3 linked regions of the Homo sapiens genome follow. The protein of the gene in region 3 purifies or fractionates together with the protein of the main gene of each other region. This does not show direct contact. Each region holds a gene or a part of one and is shown on either strand. Other genes may lie near its edges. The genes, in order: TBC1D23, HSPBP1 and FLYWCH2.

What was found.
Region 1: the proteins of FLYWCH2 (region 3) and TBC1D23 purify together in Homo sapiens (affinity purification with mass spectrometry; 3 studies listed by BioGRID and IntAct, with this or other methods). This does not show direct contact.
Region 2: the proteins of FLYWCH2 (region 3) and HSPBP1 purify together in Homo sapiens (affinity purification with mass spectrometry; 2 studies listed by BioGRID and IntAct, with this or other methods). This does not show direct contact.

What each region holds. Positions count from the first base shown.
Region 1 is NC_000003.12:100,263,906-100,271,007, forward strand, and holds part of TBC1D23 (TBC1 domain family member 23), read left to right. Parts: intron 1-7,102. UniProt on the Homo sapiens protein: Putative Rab GTPase-activating protein which plays a role in vesicular trafficking. Involved in endosome-to-Golgi trafficking.
Region 2 is NC_000019.10:55,277,066-55,284,888, forward strand, and holds the start of HSPBP1 (hsp70-binding protein 1), read right to left. Parts: upstream 3,046-7,823; 5' UTR 2,970-3,045; exon of another isoform or gene 2,865-2,969; intron 2,792-2,864; exon of another isoform or gene 2,682-2,791; coding exon of another isoform or gene 2,544-2,681; coding exon 2,334-2,543; intron 782-2,333; coding exon 577-781; intron 1-576. Other genes in the region: serine/threonine-protein kinase BRSK1, read left to right, coding at 7,378-7,513. UniProt on the Homo sapiens protein: Inhibits HSPA1A chaperone activity by changing the conformation of the ATP-binding domain of HSPA1A and interfering with ATP binding. Interferes with ubiquitination mediated by STUB1 and inhibits chaperone-assisted degradation of immature CFTR.
Region 3 is NC_000016.10:2,878,339-2,886,265, reverse strand, and holds the start of FLYWCH2 (FLYWCH family member 2), read right to left. Parts: upstream 3,052-7,927; 5' UTR 2,900-3,051; intron 1-2,899.

The sequences.
Region 1 (7,102 bases), on a different chromosome or scaffold from region 3:
TAGGATTGATGTATCTTTGGTGTGTCTTTGTATTTTTGCTGGTTTCATTTTCATGAATGGAGGAACCCTAACATGGTCGGTGATTTCTGTTTTCCCTCCATCCTCTTCTAATCTTTCTCCTTTTTATCCTGGCACTCTCATCAGCCCCCCAGAAGAGGATTTGAATAGGAAGACTTTGGGATTGGGAGCCAGAGGTTCAGTAAAGGCTCTGTTCTTAGAGTGCTTGGTGAATGGGTTATAGAATGGGGATGCTTTACTCTTGTTTTGTTTTGTTTTGTTGAAGAAACGAGGTCTCGCCATGTTGCCCAGGCTGGCCTCATACTCCTGAGTAGCTGGGGACTACAGGTGTGCCCCATCCATCCGGGTGTTCTACTCTGTCTTTCTCTCCCCTCCCCCTCCCTCCCTCTCTTTCTTTATCTCTCTTTCTTTTTGGAGTAAATGTTTTTATTTTAACTCTGTCAGATGGAATTTTTTCTAAAATGTATCATATATCTTACTGCCTAGCTCAAACTCATCTTAATGACTTGAGTCATTCAGTTTACAAATGTAAGTGTAATTTAAGGATAGAACTAGGTCTCTGTCCTCAGGGAATTTATGTTCTAGATACAGGAGGCATGTTTGAGAACATCGATTACTTTTGTGTTATTGTAATGTGGTGAGACTTTTAGGGCCTATCTAGACAAATTGTTGCTATGTTAAGTGACACAGCTATCCCTTTTTGAGATTGCTTTTTATAAGTTTTTCCTATTTTCTTTTTTTGTTGTCAGTGGTATCTCAATTTGTTCCTAGTCTGTGAAACTAAGCCATTGAACTTGTTGAAATTGTATATACATTCTTAAAAAGGCTCAGGATGGACCTTGAAGATCTTAAAAGTATGTGGACTCTATGACATTGTTTTTGCTGATTTTCAGTTATGTTCTAGTTCACTGCTTCTCAAAATTTAAACGTACATTGGAATTATCTGGGGAGCTTGTTAAAATGCTCTCCAGGTAACTGTGATTGTGATTCAATATATTTTGAGGTGGAACTTGAGAGTCTCTGTTTCTGACTAGCTGCTGGGGGTTGCCAATTCTGGTGGTTTATGGACCACACTTAAGTTAGCAGGGTTCTAGGTTATATATATATCAGAATGAGTAGGTCAGAGGAATTTGTATATGTCACATTGTATCACCTTACATGTTATACTAAAATATGTGTAATTACATGACTTATCATTGTTCTTTAGATAATGAACTTCTCAAGGGCAGTGGCTGATAAAAGGCAGGTGTCTCAGTAAATGTTTATTGAATGAATGTACGCATGAATGAAAACTTTCCTGTAATTATGTGCAATAGCATACTAAGCTGTCATTTCATATAAATTTCCTGACTCCAGTGTTTTTGTGAGCTGTGGAATTGTCTGTTGGTATAATGCTTATTCTTTATGGAAAGCCAAAGTAATCAGAAAATGCCTCAGCTTTCAAGCTCCCTGGGATTCAGCCATGTAAGCTCAAAGGGTGTGGTGAAATTCTTGTAAAAATGCTTATAGTTAGTTTTAAGTGATTTGAATTTAATTTTAAAAAATTAATATAAGTTATGAGAATCTGGATTTGTAAAATTAAACATGTTAAATTGTTACAGTGAAAAGATTGGTAATTACCCTCCTTGGTATTGAAGAAACTAGCACTGGATTTGAACATATGTTCTCATTTTCCGATACTTTCTTCCCAAAATAATGTCTAAAGATCTATAGTCATAATTAAAAAATTATTTTGGTATTGACTTCAATTATATAACTGTTGAAATTGGGAGTTTGTTTAATTAAAAAATGTTACTTAATATTCAACTTTTAATTAGGGTTTTTTATTGCTAAACCTTTCTTAAGTTATTGCTAAACTTTTCTTAAAATTGTAAAAATATTAATTCCACAAAGAATCTTCTATTGTTGTTAATCTGAGATGTGAGTAGGAATTGTTTGAGAATAATATTTTTCAAAGTTTTCTGCACTCTGTAAATAGTACTATCAGTGTTCCCCATTTAATAAGCATTGAAATATGAGAAAAAACTTAAAATGTCTTTTAAGAACTAAGTGATTGAAATTTCAGATATGATATAATCAATAAAGAAATATATTAAATGTAAAAGAAAAAGGAACTGTTTGTCTAAGAAGGACATTGTCTACTTGTGGAACTGGGAAGGCTGGATACTACTTTTAGAAGAAATGAGAAAATGAACTTCATTTTTTGAATTGGGGTTATGATGTGACAGTTATTTGATTTTGTAAACTATAATTAGAGGGCAGGCAAAGATAAGAAATGAAAAAGACTTATTTTATACTGTTTACATTAAAGTCTTTAATTATAATTTAGATTTTAGAGTTTTTAAAGGTAATTTTTTTTTTTTTGAGACGGAGTCTCATTCTGTCACCCAGGCTGGAGTGCAGTGTGCGATCTTGGTTCACTGCATCCTCCGCCTCCTGGGTCCAAGGGATTCTCCTGCCTCAGTCTCTCAAGGAGCTAAGATTACAGGCATGTGCCACCATGCCCGGCTAATTTTTGTATTTTTAGTAGAGATGGGGTTTCACCATGTTGGCCAGGCCGGTCTCAAACCCCTGACCTCAGGTGATCCACCCTCCTCACCCTACCACAGTGTTGGGACTACAGGCATGAGCCACTGCACCCAGCCTAAAGGTAATTCTTAGGTAATAATTCACTTCTAGGATTTTGTTTCCTGTGGATGTTTTAATATCCATAATTTGAGTTAGTAATTGGTTTTTGCATGCTAAATAAATGTATTTCAATTAATTCATTTTTATCTCTGTGTAATCACTGCAGAGAGGCGACAAGTGCATTCCCTCTGTAAGTATAGTGAGCAATTCAGAGCACCCAGTTAAATATACTGTAATATGCAGCCAACTTTTAAGTAGGAGTCTTCTGGAGAGAATTGAGAAAATATGCTTGACAAAGCATTTCTGATGCACAGTGCTGAAATGTGGATTCTTTTTGGTATAAAGACAGTGCCTTCTCTCATGTGTCAAAAAGCAAAATAGAGTTTAGCAAAAACATTCTCAGTTCAGCAAACATTCACTGAATAGTGGTTATATTCAAGCTGCTGTGTAAGGTTTTAGAAAAAAATTTGAAACAGTTTTACAATCAGGAATGTGCATTGTGGTGCCTTCCTGGGATACTTTGATTTTTTTCATCATTTTATCTCTAGGAATACTGTGTGAAAATAGCTTCTGAAGATATCTAAATGCTGGTGTTTTGGAAATTACAGGCTCTAACAGAAAATAATAGGATTAAACAGTTTGAAAAGGGGCAGGGCTTGAAATGAGTTAAATATTGAGAATTACAGATGGAAAGCAGGTAAGTACCTTCCATTAAGCTCATAAAATCAAATTCTTTCTTGTAGAAATAAAGAATTTAAGAGCCACTTAAACCTATTTTCTGAAATTTAATGTCTGTTTGTTTCAAGGGTCTGCGTAACTTTTTAACCTGAGTTAAGAAAATGATGACTAATAAAGTCATTTGTTGCAAGTCTTCATCTTTTTTCTTGATGCTTAAAGGAGTTTTTTCTTATCCTTTAGCTGACATAGCATTTGATAGTTGGGTGGAAATCTTGTAGTGTTTGCTTCTTTTTTATTTTAAAGTAGTTGTTACATTAAACTAGTTGTTATGGTGGTATTTAATAATTTCAGCAAGGAGATATACAGGTTGAATATCTCTTTGGAATACTTGCATTATACTTAACCGGTTGAGCATCCCTAATCAAAAATCTGAAATCCATAATGCTCCAATGAGCATTCCTGTGAGTATCATGTTGGTGCTCAAGAGTTTCAGATTTTGGAGCATTTCGGAGTTGGGATTCTTGGATTTGGGATGCTCCACCTATATAAGAAAATACTGTACATTTGCATAGAGCGTTACTCTTTATATATAATGCTTATATATATTAATAACATCTCATTTGGATCTTAAAACAGCTCTATGAGAAAGCAAAGTTATGCATTGGGCATGATGGCTCATGCCTATAATCCCATCACTTGGGGAGGCCAAGGTGGGAGGATTGCTTGAGCTCAGGAGTTCGAGACCATCCTGGGCAACATAGTGAGGCCTCGTCTTTACTAAAAATAAAAAAAATTAGCCAGACTTGGTGGCACAAACCTGTAGTCCCAGCTACTTGGGAGGTTGAGGCAGAAGGATTGCTTTAACGGGATGAATCGAGGCTGCAGTGAGCTGTGCACACCAAGCCTGGTGACAGAGTGAGACTCTGTCTCTAATAATAATAATAATGATGTCCATGGGTTATTTTTCCTTTAAACAGTTTCTAACCTTTATTTTGAAGCCTCTGTGCATCACTTTGTGATGCAAAAGATTTATTCATCTCATATATATGTGCAATTTGAATACTAGAAATCCTTTATTTTGTGAATTCCATTTAGATTAACCATCAGCATGAAATTCAATGAAATCCTTTTATCAAAAAAAATGTTCCTTGATGGTTGGAATCCAGCTTAAAAAAAAACCCAATATGTATTTCTTTGCCAAACTATGATCCCCATTGGCATAGTACCCTTGAGAATTGTCCAAATGTTGCAAAGTGTTGTCACTTCATTTGCTGTAGTTGTTTCTTTATAACAACTATGTTTCTGAAATGATAGTTTCAAGACAAGGAATGTTGGTAATGTTTCTTTTATCATTACACTTTGGATAAAGTGGAAATTTGTAATTGACATAGGTAATATCTCTCTCTCTTTGCTGTTTTCGTGCCATTCTCTATCTTAGGCAAAAGTTACACTCTGTTTTTAGTTTCCAAATAAACTGCATTAGTGGGGTGGAAAAACAAGGATGCATTTCTTTGTGCCTTAAAAATACTGAAAAGTCACCTCATATGTATAGAAGGGAACAGTGTTGAGGATTTTTATTTTAAGAAAACATGAAAGAAGAAAGGATTTAGAGTGCTCGCTGAAGTTGACTGCTCATTAGAGAAATTTCCAATTTTGTAGTCAAAATCTTATAGCAAATGCATTGCAACATTACACATATAGTTATGAGAAACGTTTTTTGTGTATCTTTTTATTTTTTACTTAGGCAACAACTGAGTTTTTTTCTTAGCAGAGAAAAGGGCACCGTTGGTACCATTGGTGTAATTTGATCTTCATGGATTGTGGATCAAAAATAAATCTAAGATTTAAAACACCTGTTCCATTTGTAGTTAATTTTAGTAGCTTATAGAATAACATTTCTGTGATCTCTAGCCCTTTTGCCTATTGCATACAATGATGAAATACTGTAGCTATTAAATTTGCCTTGTGAAGCCAAGAGGACTAGATTTAGCACCGTCTTTACTTGGCTCAAGATCCTGATTAAAACACAAATTCTAGAGATTACATTATTCATAAGGGAATCTCCCAAAGCTGTTTTTGTGGATCTGGTCCTAATGCAAAATTTTACAAATTGTTTAAAGCTGGTGAATGGGTGTTTTTCCCCTTGGCATATAAATTTGTAACTTGTTAAAATGCTTGTAACAAGCATGTCTGATTCTGACACAAATCTAGATAACTTCACAATTATCAAATTGTATCAAATTGTTCTCACAAGACTTTAAGTTGTCAAGGTCTTTTCTGAATGTGCTATCATACTATTGAAATACTTGGAAAGTTTTGATGGTTTGAGGTTGGTATTTAAAAATAAGTTGCACAAGACATACTGTGGTCCTTGAGCTCCATGCATATCTACTGTACAAGTGAATCTGTAGCAAAGTTTTCTCTTTTCATTTCTACCAAATGTCATACAGAATATTCAAGAACTAATTAAGGAGTTTTGTTATGGTAGTACTTTGTAACCAGCGTCCTAACAATAGTAGCAAAATAAGTTCAGACAAAGCTTTGGTGCTGATGTCTCATTCCCTGGGCATTAAGAAACCCCCAGAAATGTGGTGGCACAAATTAAGCCATGAAACCACAATTCAATACATGCAGCTTGCCACTGCTTACTCACTGTTCCACAATTTGCTAGTGCTTATGACTAATTAGGTATTCACTTTAGAGTTTTAAGTAATTGGTCAGAGGCTTATACCTGATTAGGATATGTACATGGACAAGCTGGGCTGTCATGGTTTAATCTGAGCTTACAGTGATTTACATTCTAAACAAATATGAATAAATTGCACTTCAGAGCCGCTCCCACCTCTGTTCAACAGGATTTAGATGATAGGACTTGGACTAGAACCTTGGAATAGCCATCTGGCATGTAAGCTACATAAGAGCATTGACTTTTTTTTTCTGTACTGCATCCCCTGTGCCTCACACAGTGAGTAGCCTGTAGTAGGTGCTCAATACATACGTGTTGAAGGTTTGAATAAAAGAATACTTATGTCAGGGAAGGAAATAATTCAGTATATGGGTTAGGAAAGCAGAGGAAAATCTAAATGAGAGTGTTTTAAGAAGACAGTCAAACTTTGCAGTGTATGTAAAGGGGACGAGAGCTGAGAAAGATGACTAATGACTTCTGAGAGCACCTTTAGTAGAGTGATAGAGGTTTTGGGTGAATGAGAGAGTAAGTTTAGGTGAGTGGAGACTACTGTTTTCAAGGAAGTTGAACTGTAAAAGGAAGGAGAGAGATGACTTTTTGATGGGGAGTAGGTTATATTTATATATAGGACCCTTTAAGTAAGTAAATGTGAAAATTTTAAAGGAAAGGAGATAATCACAGGTTATATTTTTGAATGCTAGAAGTACTTTCAGTGAAGGTTTCTGAGTTCATTTGTTTTCTCTTGGCTCTGTTTAATACTGTTAGCAGACTCACAGGTTTGAATAATATCATATGCAATAGAAATAACATATTTAAGATGTTATTTTTTAACATCATGTCAGGCTTTGGGCTTTTATTGATTTCCCAGTAGTGTAGCTTTTGTATTTTTATTTTAAGAAAACAATAATAAATCTTAGACTTTGGCCACTTTAAGACACAATATTAATTTTTTTTAATGTGGTAATTGGATTTTCTTTGTAATTTCTCTATACTCTGCATTTAAGTGTAGAGTGATTACATACATTATAGACCCTACTTGGTCCTTTAAAAACTGCTAGTCTTCATTATTTTTATAATTACAGAAAAGGATTC
Region 2 (7,823 bases), on a different chromosome or scaffold from region 3:
GAGCTCTCCTCAAACCTTCTGTGAGCTCTGCTGCTTGGAGTAAAACAGCATTTACCTCCCCATCTGCGAGGCCCACCCCAGCGCTGTTTCCTGCGCCTGGCCCCTCACTCACTCTACTCTGCCTCAAGGGCCTGGCTGCTGTTCCTGAACACACCAGGCACACTCTGGCCTCAGGGCCTTTGCACTGGCTGTTCCTACTGTCTGGAATGCTTTTCCCAGAGATCATCCCACAACTCTCACCTCACTTCAGGTCTCTGATCAAACGTCACCCCGGGGAGGCCTTCTCTGCCACCCCACCCATGCCACTTTCCCTCTTGTACTCTGGGGAGTGGCAGTGGACACCCAGAGGACTAGGAGAGAAACAGCCATCTCAGAGCTGATCAGGGAAGTGGGGGACTCCACCTGCCATGAGGGTGAGGCAGAGCCTTGCTCCTTATGGCAATGGAGGCGAACAGGCTGATGGTGAGAAGGCAGCAGGGAGGCTGACGGTGTGAGCCCCAAGAGTAGGGGCAAGAGCTGAGAGGCAGCAGGACATGTACAGAGGGGCAGAACGTCCTGGCGGGGGAAGCGGGGTACCTGCGGCATTGTCCATGTTCTCACACAGGTCGGCCAGCAGCTCCAGGGCCCCCTCTCGCTCTTGCTGGTCGGCCGCCTGCTCGGCCTCCCCAGCAGTGGGGGGCATGGGCTGTGACAGCACTCGGAGGCAGCTCTTCATCTGCTCCACCTCCTCCCGCTGGCCTCGGAAGGCAGCCGACATGGCCTCCTGCAGCCACTGACGCCTCTGGAGACCAAGGCGAGGAGGAAAGAAGGAGATCCATCAGTCATTCATTACAAAGGAACAGCCATTAATAAAGACAGCCAACAACTGAGGGCTGATGTTCCTTCAGTCAACAAATATCGGCTGGGAGCTGTGGCTCATCCCTGTAATCCCAGCACTTTGGGAGGCCGAGGTGGGTAGACTGCCTGAGCTCAGGAGTTTGAGACCAGCCTGGGCAACATGGTGAAACCCCGTCTCTACTAAAAATACAAAAATTAGCCAGGCCTGGTGGCGTGAGCCTGTAATCCCAGCTACTCGGGAGGCTGCAGCAAAGGGAATCGCTTGAACCTGAGAGACAGAGGTTGCAGTGAGCCAAGATCAGGCCACTGCACTCCAGCCTGGGCAACACAGTGAGACTATCTCAAAGAAAAAGGAGATGAGAGCTAATACGTGACTGCTGGAATTTTTGGGGGTGAGGGAGGGGAGCAGAGGTCTCCTTAGTCACAGTTCTAAGTAAATTTGAGTGAGCTATTTAATGTTTCTGTGCCTGTTTCATGCCTCACTGTTGTAAAGGTTCAATGATATCATATATGTAAGTGGGTTAGCATAATGCTCTGTATACAGTAATTGTCGATTAAACATTATATATAATAGCTATCGCTATGAATCTGCAAAACAACTCTATGAGGTATATATCATTGTTATCCCCACTTCGCAGATGAGAAAGTTGAGTCACAGAAAGGTTGAGACTTACCCAAGGTCACACAGTCAGCAATTGGCAAAGCCTGAAATCAAACCCAAGCAGTCTAGGCTGGGCGTGCTGGCTCACATCTGTAATCTCAGCACTTTGGGAGGCCGAGGCAGGTGGATCACTTGACGCCAGGAGTTCGAGACCAGCCTGGCCAATGTAGTGAAACCCCTTCTCTACTAAAAATACGAAAATTAGCCAGGCATGGTGGCCCATGCCTCTAATCCCAGCTACTGGGGACGCTGAGGCATGAGAATTGCTTGAACCGGGAAGTCAGAGGTTGCAGTGAGCCAAGACTGCGCCTCTGCACTCCAGCCGAGACTGTGTCCTCCACCCCCAACCCTGCCCCCACCAAAAAAAAAAAAAAAAAACAGCAGTCTGACTACAGAGCCTGTGCTCTTCATGAAAACACACTGCTGCCTTCAGAAGCACTGTCTGTATGCTGGGCACTGTGTGCAGCCCTACTTAAAGTAGAACCTCAGAACTACCCTATACGGTAGTTATTATTATTATCAATTTGTAAATGAAGAACTTGAGATTCAGAAAGATGAAGTAATATACCCAAGGTCACACAGCTGGAAATGCTGAATCCAGGTTAGTCTGGCTCTGGAGAGGATATGTCCCCTCAGACTCTCTTGAGATCTGACCTTCAGTCAACGATAACCCCATCTAGCACAATTTATAGCCCACAATGCCTCCACACCTGGTTTTCTGCCTCCCACCCAAGAAGACCCTAGTCTTCTTGTGGCTCCCCAAGTCACACTTCCCAAGGCAACTCTATCTGTCCCCAGGCCCCTCACCCCAGCTTCTTGGGTCCCCATCCTTTACCTCCTCACTCATCGGTTCTGGAGGAGGGTCTGGCTCTTCAGAGCCCGCGGTGATGGCCATCTGCAGCAAGCCTTGGAGGTTGCGTGGGGGCCGGGAATTGCCCGAGCCCCCAGCCGAGGAGCCGCCGCCGCCGCCCCCTGAAGAGCAACCCTGGGAGGCCGGGGGCAGCGCCAGGGGCAGGCGGCTCCCCCTTGAGCCTTCGTCTGACATGGGCCGTTTGTGAAGAAGGGAAGAATGTGTTAGAGGGAGAAGGTGGTCACCGCTGAAGCAGCTCTGGCGTCCTGATGGGTCGATTCTTGAGGGTCTGCTGAGAAGGCGGCGTTTCAGGGGAGCTCGGCGACCCCCCATGACCCCAAACCACTCTGCCCCCAGCCCACTTAACCACAGCCCCTTTTCCTTCCTTCATACCCACAGGACCCTTCCCCAAAGTCATAAGCCTCTCCTTTCTCCCTAGCAACAGGCCCCACCCACTCTCCCTGGCAACAACCCCCCTTCCCCATCTCCACTGCGTGCGTCCCGTCTCTTAGCAACCTCACTGCTCCGCCTCCGTAGCAACAAGCCCGCCCTTTGGTCTCCTTAGCAACAAGTCTTCTCCCTCCTCTCCGAAGAGGGGCGCCGGAATAAGGCGGATCTCACCTCCCCGGGTCCTCAAGCCGCCGCTGCTCCTACAGACAAAGTCGTCCGCACCTGACTCTGCTGGGCGCCGCCATCTTAACCGGAAATACGCACGGTTTCACCCGGAAGTGCCAGGCGTACCCACCCAACTTCGTGCCGTGGTTGCGGCTGAAGCTGCTTGCCCGACTCTTATCCCCTTCTCACCTGGCGGGATACTGCACTCGGCCCCGCCCCTCCCATCCGGGCCCCGCCTCCAAGCTGGGACGCCCCTTCGTGCGGGCGCCGCCCCTTCACGCTCAAGTAGCTGGTCAAAGCCCTGCCCCTGGCCCAGTTTTCGCACCTCAGCGAGTCCCGCCCCCGATACTTTTGCAAGCTCCACCCCTCTTCTAACGTGTGCCCCGCCCCCAGGTCTGACCCCGCCCACCCTACGATTCCCGCCCCTGCTCTAGGCCTTTCAGACTCTCCCAGTTGGGCCCCGGCCCCTTTACAGGCCCCTCCCACTCATTGCTGTCAGTCATCCTTAGAAGGTTTGGGACCTCGCCCCAACTAATCTGACTTTCGCCTCCACCGGGGCCACCAACCCCATCTACAGGAGCCCTGGGGTCGCAACCGTAATGGCTGGCCTGTGAGCCTTATGCCCCCCGCAACCCCTCTCTCGGCCTCAGTTTCTCCATCTGTCAAGTGGAGCTGCGGCGTGGATCCCTCTCATCACCCAGCCTCTCCCTCATGGACTCTTCCCCATGTCCTGCCAGGTGGAGAGGAGAGGATTCTTGAGGCCTAGAGCCGGAAAGCAAAGTGCCCCAGAGCCCAGCAAGATTCAGAGCGCCAGAGGAGCCAGCTTGGTGGGGAGGCCCGAGGCCTCTGTGCTCCAGAAGTGGGGTTTAGGCCTGGGCACGTGCTGGTGCGGGCCGATCTGCAGAGGTGTTGGCCCTGGGCTGGGCTTAAAGAAACTCCCGTGTTGATCCTGGATAGGAGGCGTTTTCCTCCAGGAAAAGGTTGTGCTCAACGCAAAACGGGCACACAGTCACAAACGTATCAATCACCTGCTGGGCGTGGTTGTGCAGGGGGATATTTTGGGCAGAAACAGGAAGACCAAACAGATAGGTTGTGTGTGTATGTGTGTGTGTGTGTGTGTGTGTGTGTGTGTGTGGTGTTTCTAGCACTGTGCTGTGAGATGCATCTGGGCCTGTGGATGTGCTATTATATTAGTTTCCTATTGCTGCTGTTAACAAATTACTAAGAATGTGGTGGCTTAAAACAGCACACATTTATTATCTTGCAGTTATGGAGGGCAGAAATCCAAAATGGGTTTCACGGGGCTGAAATCAAACTGTCAGCAGGATTGCATCACTTCTGGAGGCTCTCGGGGAGAATGTTTTTCTTGCCTTTTCCAGCTTCTAGAGGCCACACTCTTTCTTTGACAGGTGGCCCCATCACCCCAAGTTCTGCTTCCACCTTCCCATCTCCATCACTGACTGCTCCTCCTGCCTCCTTCTCACAAATACTCTTGTGATTCCATCGAGCTCACCCAAATAACTGGGATAATCTCCCTATCTCAGTCACATGGGCAAAGTCCCTTCAGCCATGCAAGGTAACTTATGCACAGATCCTGGGAATTAGGACACGGACATCTATGTACAAGTCTATCAGTTTATAATACATGGCCGGGGGCAGTGGCTCAGGTCTATAATCTCAGTACTTTGGGAGGCCAAGGTGGGAGGATCACTTGAACCCAAGAGCTCGAGACCAGCCTGGGCAACATAGTGTGTCCCCAGCCCTACAAAAAAATACAAGAATTAGCCATGTGTGATGGCATCTGCTTATATCACAGCTAGGCAGGAGGCTGAGGCAGGAGGATCACTTGAGCCCAGGAGGTCGAGGCTGCAGGGAACTATGACTGCCCTACTGCACCCCAGCCTAGGCAACAGGGGGAAGACCCTGTCTCAAAAAACAAAACAAAACAAAAAAAAGAGGGTGATCATATAATTTTTCATCTATAGCAAGACATTTGAGAGCAAAAAGGGACTCAATAGTTACAGAACCAGGCCAGGTGTGGTAGCTCACGCCTGTAATCCCAGCACTTTGGGAAGCTGAGGTGGGCAAATCACAAGGTCAGGAGTTTGAGACCAGCCTGACCAACATGGTGAAACCCCATCTCTACTAAAAATACAAAAATTAGCCAGGCATGGTGGCGGGTGCCTATAATCCCAGCTACTCGGGAGGCTGAGGCAGGAGAATCGCTTGAACCCAGGATGTGGAGGTTGTAGTGAGCTGAGATTGTGCCACTGCACTCCAGCCTGGGAGACAGAGCAAGATTCCGTCTCAAAAAAAAAAAAAAAAAAAAAAAAAAAAAAAAAAAAAGGCTACAGAACCAGCCTGGCTAACAGGGTGAAACTCCATCTCTACTAAAAATACAAAAAAAGCCGGACGCCTAAAATTGTACCCTGCTCAACAGGCCCCTCTTAACCCCCTTCCCTGCTGTAGTCACCTCCTCAGCACGGACATGATTATCTAACACACCATACATTTTGCCTATTGACCTTGCTGATCATCTGTTTCATCCACCAGCATGGAAGCTCCACAGGACAGGCCTTTTTGCTGATTTAGGTCACTGCCACGTTCTTACCAACAGGAACAGTGCCTGGCTGAGATTTGGCACTCATTAAAGATGTGTGGACTCAAGGTGTTGAATGGGGGACTGGGAAATCTCACAGGAGCCAATAGGCTCCTGTGTGCACTTTATTTTATTTTATTTTTGTTAGAGACAGGGCCTCACTCTGTTGCTCAGGCTGGAGTGCAGTGGTGCAAACGTAGCTCACTGCAGCCTAGAACTCACTGACTCAAGCCTCAGCCTCCCAAGTAGCTGGGACTACAGGCACATGCCACCATGCCCGGCTAATTTTTAAAAAAATTTTTGTAGGGATGGGGTCTCACTGTGTTGCCCAGGCTGATCTTCCCACCTCTGTCTCCCAAAGTATTGGGATTACAGGCATGAGCCACCTTGCCCAGCCCTGGGTGTGCTTTACAGGGGACTTGAGAATTAAATGGGTGTCTAACACTTGCGGGTACATGACATAGAGGGATCTATGGTTTATGCGGAAAGCTAATGGGGGCAGGCGGGTTACTCACAGGCAGAGCACATGCTTGTGGACCTGCTACAGTGGGGATGTATGGGCTGTACTGGGGTCCACATGAAGATATAAAGGACCCTATGACGAGCACAGAGAATATATGGGGGTCTAAAAACATAACACAGGGAAACTGAGGGGGTTCTGGAAGCTTCTCTGTAAAGAGAATCCAAAATCACTCTGGGCTGTGGGTAGATATGGGGCCTTGACATTGGTGGGGACACAGACTTACCCTTACCCTGAATGGGTGGCCTTAGGGGGCTGGGGAAACAGACATGAATTTTGGGTCAGCAACTCCAAGAATTCTTTCCCCTCTCTGTCTCTGTCTCCCTCCATATGTCCCCACCTCTCCCCAGCACGTGTCCCTCCACCTGTGTGTACCCCCGGCCCTCTCTACAGCTCCATCTGCGCCCCCTCTCCCCCACCTCTCTGGTTGGTCTTCCTCTCTCTGTCTCTCTGAATCTCTGACTCTCTCCATCCCTCTGTCGGCTTCCAGCAGCTTTCTCTCCCTCTCCCTGTCTGTTTTCCCGGCTTGCCATTCCTTCCTTCTCTTCTGTCCCTGTCCATCTCTGCCCTTCCTCCCTCTCTGCCTCAGCCTGTCTCTGGTGGTCTCCATCCCTCTGGCGTCTCTGCCTGTCTCCCGTCTCTGTGTCAGCCAGCATCTCTCTTTGTGTATCTCCATCTCTGCCCCATCTGTTGGGTCCTCTCTCTCTCTCTCCATCCTTCCCTCCATCCTCTCTCCTGCATCCTCCCACCTCCTCTCCATCCCTCCAGCTGGAGGCCCGCCCCCTGCCCCCCCTCGCTCCCCCTCCCCCCTCCGAAAGGGTTAACTTTGGGGAAGGGCCCGGAGTCCCCGGATGGTGATGTCAGCGTGCCGGAGAGAAAGGACGAGGTGGCGGGGGGAGGCGGAGAGGAGGAGGAGGCGGAGGAGAGAGGGCGCGTGGGGGGGCGGGGGGGACCTCGGCCTGCAGCATCCGCCGGCCCGCACCTCAGACCCCCCCGGCGGGGGGAGGCGCAGGAAGCGGGGGGCCGGCCAGAAACGGGCTGGGGAGGGGGGGCCCCGCAGCCCCCCTGGGCCATGCTGACTCCCGGGGCCTGACCCCCCCGGGCCAGCCCCCCCTCCCCCAGCTCCGCGGCCCGCCGACTGGGGGGGGCCAGCCCAGCCCCCTGGGGACCCCCGGAGAGGTGGGGGGCAGCCGGGGGGGCCGGGACGGAGCGGTCGCCGGCCCCCACCGGAGAGACGGGGCGACGGCCGCAGGGGGGGCGGCCGGGGGACCGGTCGGGCCGGGACCAAGGGCACCATGTCGTCCGGGGCCAAGGAGGGAGGTGGGGGCTCTCCCGCCTACCACCTCCCCCACCCCCACCCCCACCCACCCCAGCACGCCCAATATGTGGGCCCCTATCGGCTGGAGAAGACGCTGGGCAAAGGACAGACAGGTGAGCCTAGCAGAAGGGGACACCTGGGGCGGGGGGCAGGGTGGAGGTGGCGGCAGAGGCGGGACTCAGGGTATTCAAATGGCAGGGGCTGGCTGCCCAGACCCCTGGGCCCCTCATAGAGAAGGGACTTGGGATTCAGACTCCTGGGTCCCTGGATGGAGGGGGTGGGGGGCGCAGACTCAGGTCCTGGAGGAGAGGGGCTGGGGGCCTGGACTCCTGGGTCTGAGGGAGGAGGGGCTGGGCACTGGACTCCTAGGTCTGAGGGAGGAGGGCCTGGGGGCCTGGACTCCTGGGTTTCAGGGAGGAGGGC
Region 3 (7,927 bases):
TGAGCCGAGGTGGCGCCACTGCACTACACTGCACTGCAGCCTGGGCATCAAAGTGGTACTCCGTCTAAAAAAAAAAAATAATAACAATAATAATAATAATGGGCAAAGGCTCCAAACAGGCTTTTCTCTAAAGAAGATATACAAATGGCTAATATATGAGAAGATGCTCAACATCATTAGTCACCAGGGAAATGCAAATCAAAACCACAATGAGATATCACTTCACACCACCAGGATGGACATAATAAAACAAACAAAAAACAGATAATAGCAAGTGCTGGTGAGGATGAGGAGAAACTGGAACCCTCATACACTGCTGAGGGGAATGTAAAATGGTGCAGCCATTTTTGGAAACCAGCCTGGCAGTTCCTCAAAAGGTTAAATGTAGAGTTACCCTATGACCCAGCAATTCCACTACTAGCTATATGCCTGGAAGAAAGGAAAACACATGTCCACATAAAAATGTGTACATGAATGTTACAGTTGCATTATTCATGAAAGCCAAAACGTTTCGATGGATATTCAAAACAGCCCAAATATCCATCAATGGATGAATGAATAAGTACAATGTGGTGCATGTATAAAATGGAATATTATTTGGCAGTAAAAAAAATCTATGCTACAACATGAATGAACCTTGAAGAAATTATGCTCGGTAAAAGAAGCCAGACCCAAAAGACCACATATTATATGATTCCATTTACATGAAATTACTTAGAGTCTAGAGAATCTACAGAGTAGGAAAATCTATGGAGACAGAACGTAGATTTGTGGTTATCTCGGGATTGGGGTGGGGAAGGGGAGAATGAGAATTGACTACTAGTGGGTATGTGCTTTATGGGGTGATGAAAATGTCCTAAAAGGAATTTTCATGAGGGTTGCACAACTTTGTGATCACACTAAAGCCACTGAACTGTATATTTTTTTTTTTGTTTTGTTTTGTTTTTTTGAGACGGAGTCTCGCTCTGTCGCCCAGGCTGGAGTGCAGTGGCGTGATCTCACTGCAAGCTCCGCCTCCCGGGTTCACGCCATTCTCCTGCCTCAGCCTCCGGAGTAGCTGGGACTACAGGCGCCTGCCACCACGCCTGGCTAATTTTTTGTATTTTTAGTAGAGACGGGGTTTCACCGTGTTAGCCAGGATGGTCTCGATCTCCTGACCTCGTGATCCGCCCTCCTTGGCCTCCCAAAGTGCTGGGATAACAGGCGTGAGCCACCGCGCCCGGCCGAAATGTACACTTTAAATGGGTAAATTGCACGGTATGTGAATTATCTCAATAAAGTTGTTAAATATTCAGAAAAAGGTAAATTGAGTCTATGAACATATGAACAGCAGTTCCCCAATGTCACTATCCCTAAGAATCACCCGGAGTTTTTTTTTTGTTTTTGTTTTTTAGACGGAGTATCGCTCTTGTCGGCCAGGCTGGAGTGCAGTGGCGCGACCTTGGGTCACTGCAACCTCTGCCTCCCGGGTTCAAGCCTTTCTCCTGTCTCAGCCTCCCAAGTAGCTGGGATTACAAGCGTGCACCACCACACCCGGCTAATTTTGTATTTTTAGTTGAGACGGGGTTTCTCCATGTTGGTCAGGCTGGTCTCGAACTCCCGACCTCAGGTGATCCACCCTCCTTGGCCTCCCAAAGTGCTGGGATTACAGGCGTGAGCCACCGCGCCGGCCCCGACTAATTTTTGTATTTTTTTTTTTTTTTTTTTAGTAGAGACGGGGTTTCACCATGTTAGTCAGAATGGTCTCTATCTCCTGACCTTGTGATCTGCCTGCCTCGGCCTCCCAAAGTGCTAGGATTACAGGCGTGAACCACCGCGCCCGGCCTGTGTTGCTTTAAGCCACCTTATTTGTTAGGACAGCAACAGGAAACTAATACAAGGTTCAATCCCTCACTGACGATGTTCTGGACGACAGGACCCCTGCCTGGTGCCTCATGGTGGACCCACAGAATCATCTTCATACGCACGGGGGAGAAACATCACTAATGTCCACCAGCACCGGCATCCTCAGCCGCGAGGACAAATCCCTTACCCTCCCAGCAGGTTTCATCTGCGTAACGGAAATAGTGGTGAATTTATCAGGGGCTGTTAATAGATGACAGGCAAGGGTGAAGTCATCGCAAAAGTTCCCAGACGATATGGACAGCTGCTCCCCAATAATTACTGCTCCACGCAGTCCACAGCGGGGCTGTTATTGACCCCGACAGGATGACGGGACACTAAGGTGTGCAGTACACGTCCTCACAGGGAGATTTAAAAAACCGGCAGTGACCCCTGCCCCAAGAAGGCCAAGAACTGCTACTCTAAGGTGTGCAGCGCGGAGCTTCCCCACCATGGCAATTTCAGCCATGGCAGCTCCTTCCCCTAATCACCAGGGCTCAGAATCTTTATTTCACTCCTTTACCCAATGCAATTGGCATCAAACGCGGGCTGGGCTGCGCCCAAATGGTCCCAGCTCCCCGGCTCTCTCCTCTCTCAAGAATACCCACACCCTGAGGCCCCGAGTGTCTCCCCCGCCCCAGTATCTCACGCCTCCAACTCGCTGCCGTCCCTGCAGGGACCTCCCGAGCTGCAACCGTGGGACGAGGCCGGCGGGGGTTGGGGGGTGCCGGGAAGGCAGCGCTGGGCGCGGCGGACACGGCCAGGGACCGGCGGGCGAGTGCGGACCTCCTTCGTGTGGGGGTGTTGAGGCTTTGGACAAGGGACTGGAGGGGGTGGGGAAGGAGGGGCGAGAGGCAAAGAGGGAATCGCGGGAGACCCCACAGGAGGCGGCCTGAGCACCAGGACGCGGACCCCTCCTCAGCACCCGCAGCCCTCGGGACCCCCGAGAGAGCCGGGCCGGGGACTCGTCCATGCCGAGGACGCAGGACCCTCCCCGCCCGCCAGGGCCCGTCCTCACCGACGACAGCGGTGCCCTCCCTCTCCGGCGACAGCGCCGCGGCGGGTCCCTCAGCCTCCGCGCCAAGGGCCCCAGCCTCAGCTCGCGCTGTTACCTCAAGCCGGGGTCACAGCGCGAGCATGCGCAGCAAGGCCGCGGGTGCCCTGTCTTCTGGCTGGGGCCGCTCCTCCGCGTCTTGCCCGTGCGGCGTAGAGCTGGCGTCCGGCCAATCGGAGGGCGGAGGCGGGGCCAAAATTCAGTAAGGGGGCGGGGACACCCGGGATTGAGTGTCGCCGTCAGGGGCGGAGCCTCGGGGGACCTGCGGCCTGGATCCGGGTTGCGGGCGAGGTTATCCCAGCACCAGTGGGTTGGGCTTCACTGCGACCCCCGGGCTTCCTCACGGATTTGACTCCGGCTCTCTGCGGGGAAAACTGGAGCATTTGTTTAAAGGTTTTGCTCTCCCCCGTCGCGATACCGAGCGTGCGGAGGGAAGGTGTTTAGGCTCATGGAAGCCACTGCCTTGCTTTAAGCTCTGCATCCTTGACGACGCAGCAGCCTCATCCGCGCCATTGGTCCAGCCCTCGTCTATTAGTTTAGCCCCTGCCCATTGGTCCAGCCCTCGCCCAATAGTCCCGCCCTCTCTCTGTAGTTCAGCCCCTGTCCATTCATCCTTTCTCGTTATTGGTCCAGCCCTGGCCCATTGGGCCCACCCGTGCCCACGGGCCCCGCCCTCTCCGTGCCCAACCACGTTCACCCGGCCCAAGGGGTGCCCGGGACACTCGCCATCCTCCAGCCACCCACTGCAGTGGGACTGGGCTGGGTCCGGGCACAGGGAGCTGTGGGGCCCTGGGCGCTGCTTTCCTGGGACACTTGGCTGCAGCGTCCAGAGCGGCCCCCGCACAGCCCCCTAGGCTCACCGCGGCTCTCCCAGCCCCGCGGGGTCGCCCCCACTACCCCGGCCACCTTGGTCCCCCTAAGCCTGGCTCCGCGCCCCGCCCCCCTCGCTCTAAAGCGGCCGCTGAATGTGCCACCGCCCCAGGGCTCCAGGGTCCAGGTCGAGATCCTCTGGGGCCTCCCGCACCTTCCGCCTTCTCACGTCCGAATGCCAGCGTCGCTGCACGCCCTTCCTCTGCCCTGCCCCTCCCGGCCCTGGCTCTGCAGGTCTCTGAATCCCACCGTGGACTCCGCTACCAAGGCTCCCGCTGCCCCCATCCCACTATCCTATCTCCCCGGGCATTGTCTGGTGTCATTCAAGGCCTTTGTGCTTTTTTTTTTTTTTTAGAAACGAGAATTGCGCTCTGTCGCTCAGGCTGGAGTGCAGTGGCGTGATCTCGGCTCGCTGCAACCTCTGCCTCCCGGGTTCAAGCAATTCTCATGCCTCAGCCTACTGAGTAGCCGGGATTACGGGCGCCCGCCACCACGCCCGGCTAATTTTTGTACTTTTAGTAGAGACGGGTTTCACCATGTTGGCCAGGCTGGTATTGAACTTCTGACCTCAGGTGATCCACCCGCCTCGGCTTCCTAAAGTGCTGGGATTACAAGAGTGAGCCACCGTGCCCAGCTACCTTTGTGCATTTATTTGCTGTTATCTATTAATCATTCACAGACTACTGGTTGTTTTTAACTTGATGATGTTATAAATATCTTTGTATATGAATCTCTGATGTCAAAGATTTTTTTTTTTTTTTTTTGAGATGGAGTCTCGCTCTGTCGCCCAGGCTGGAGTGCAGTGGCGTGATCTCTGCTTATTGCAACCTCCGCCTCCCGGGTTCAAGCGATTTTCCCGCCTCAGCCTCCCAAGTAGCTGAGATTACAGGCACCGGTAATCATGCTTAATTTTTATATTTTTGTAGAGATGGGATTTCACCATGTTGGCCAGGCTGGTATCAAACCGGAGTTACCTCCGGTGATCTGCCCACCTCGGCCTCCAAAAGTGCTGGGATTAGACATGTGAGCCACCTTGCCTGTCGAGATATTAAAGATTTTTTTTTTTTGAGACAGAGTCTCACTCTGTTGGCAAGACCGGAGTGCAGTAGCACGATCTCAGCTCACTGCAACCTCCGCCTCCTGGGTTCAAGTGGTTCTCCTGCCTCAGCCTCCCAAGTAGCTGAGATTACAGGCGCCTGCCACCGCACCCAGCTAATTTTTTTGTATTTTTAGTAGAGACGGAGTTTCACCATCTTGGCCAGGCTGGTCTTGAACTCCTGACCTCGTGATCCACCCGCCTCAGCCTCCCAAAGTGCTGGGATTACAGGTGTGAGCCACCGCACCCAGCCAAAGATTTCTTGAAAGTCTTAAAAGAGGTCAAAGGAGGCAAATATTTTTAAAAGCTTTTTAAACATGTAGCCAAATTGTCCCCAAGGAAGTGCACAAGCTTGGGGTTAGATGCTTGGGTTCAAGTCCCTGCTGTGTCAATTGCCAGCTGTGTGAATGAGCAATTACATCCCCTCTCTGTGCCTCAGTGTCTTCACCTGATAAATGGGGGTGATAACGCACCCACCTCCTACAGCCATTGTGAGAATTCACAGAGTATTGTCATGTGGACTGATAAGAGTCTTGGTTGTTTTCTGTTTCTTTTTGTTTTTGTTTGAAACAGAGTTTCACTCTTGTTGCCCAGGCTGGGGTGCAGTGGTGTGATCTCGGCTGACTGCAACCTCCACCTCCTGGGTTCAAGTGATTCTCCTGCCTCAGCCTCCCAAGTAGCTGGGATTACAGGTGCCCGCCACTAAGCCCGGCTAATTTTTTTTGTGTTTTTAGCAGAGACGGGGTTTCACTATGTTGTCCAGGCTGGTCTTGAACACCTGACCTTGTGATCCACCCATCTCGGCCTCCCAAAGTGTTGGGATTACAGGCATGAGCCACCGTGCCTGGTGAGTCTTGGTTTTAAAATTTATATTCCTTAGTCCAGCAATTCTCAAACTTTCTGGTCTCAGAACCACTTATGACACAGGATTTTTCAGTGCCCCTTAGTCAGCCAGAGACCTCCATGGCCAGCAGCACCCCTGTTCAGGCCTCCCTTGGCCTGGGCTCGGTGCAGGAGACACCCCACCCATTCCGCCATTTGTGTCATGTTACAGCTCTTTCAATCCCGCTGCCCCCCTTGGGTCCTCAGCTTCAGGGCTGGCCCAGCCCACTGCTATTTCCTCTTGCCTGGGCAGGTTCTGGGGGTGGGTGGAGGGCTACAGTGTTACAGCCTTTTTCCTACCAGTGGTAGACCCTCCAGAGTTCTTGTCCCACATCCAAGAAGAATGAGGTTATGCTGACAGCCAGTGGGTGAGCAGGGTGAAGAGTTTTATTGAGCTAACAAACAGCTCTCAGCGAAGAGGGGACCCTCTCAAAGTCGGGTAGTTCCCCCCGCCATGGTGTGTAGACCCCAAGTGTGGCTGAGTCTGAGGTTTTTATTGGCTCAGAATGGGGGAGTGCATGCTGATTGGTTTCTGAGTATGCAAAAAAGGCTTAAAAGGCACTCAAAATTGGGCATGACAGTGTAAACAACCAGTTAGGGAAGGGTAGGTGTATGTAAAATAGGTGAAATGTGGGGATCAGTCAGAGGAAAGTGGGCCACACGGGAAGAGAGGTTCTCAGTATGTTCCATGAATTTATCAGAGACTTGTAGCTTGGTTTTCAGGCTTTAAAATGTCTTTGGTTTGAAGGCCAGTTTCACCAGGGATGGGATCTGTCTCTGTCTGCCTGGGGATTTGTCTGCCTCCTGCCGCCATCATTTTCACTGTTAGTTATTGAGACGCTCAGAGAGATTTTAGTTATGTGGGTTACATCTATCAATATTTACTATATAGAAATTTAGGCTGGGTGCAGTGGCTCATGCCTGTAATCCCACCACTTTGAGAGGCCAAGGCAGGTGGATCACCTGAGGTCAGGAGTTTGAGACCAGCCTGGCCAACATGGTGAAACCCAGTCTCTACTAAAAATACAAAAATTAGCAGGGTGTGGTCGTCGTGGGCGACTGTAATCCCAGCTACGTGGGAGGCTTGAACCCGGGAGGCAGAGGTTGCAGTGAGACAAAACAATGCCACTGCACTCCAGCCTGGGCAACAGAGTGAGGAAAAAAAACAAGACGGCTGGGTGCAGTGGCTCACGCCTGTAATCCCAGCAGTTTGTGAGGCTGAAGCAGGCAGATCATGAGGTCAGGAGTTCGAGACTAGCCTGGCCAACATGGTGAAACCCCATCTCTACTAGAAATACAAAAAAATTAGCCATGTGTTTTGGCATGTGCCTGTAATCCCAGCTACTCCAGAGGCTGAGGCAGAATTGCTTAAACCAGAGCCGCGGGTGGCGGTGGCAGGTTACAGTAAGCCAAGATCATGCTACTGCACTTCAGCCTGGGCGACAGAGCAAGACTCCGTCTTGGAAAAAAGGAACTTAAACTGATAAATTTAAAAACAGATTTATTAAAAACAGTGGTAATTAACCCACTGTATATCTTTAAACCAAAGGAATCAGTGAGTGGCAGTGTTTACACTTTTAAAAATCACTTTAGTGGCTGGGCGCGGTGGCTCACGCCTGTAATCCAAACATTTTAGGAGGCCGAGGCAGATGGAGCACCTGAGGTCAGGAGTTTGAGACCAGACTGGCCACCATGGTGAAACCCTGTCTCTATCAAAAATACAAAAATTAGCTGGACGTGGTGGCATGCACCTGTAATCCCAGCTACCCGGAAAGCTGAGGCATGAGAATTGCTTGAACCCAGGAGGCGGAGGTTGCGGTGAGCCGAGATCGCGCCACTGCACTCCAGCCTAGGTGACAGAGCAAGACGCCGTCTCAAATAAATAAATAAATAAATAATAAAAATCACTGGCCCGGCGCGGTGGCTCACACCTGTAATCCCAGCACTTTGGGAGGCTGAGGTGAGCAGATCACGAGGTCAGGAGTTCAAGACCAGCCTGGCCAACACAGTGAAACCCCACCTCTACTAAAAATACAAAAATTAGCTGGGCTTAATGGCGCGAGTCTGTAATCCCAGCTACTCACGTGGCTGAGGCAGGAGAATCGCTTGAACGCGGCGGGCAGAGGTTGCAGTGAGCTGAGATC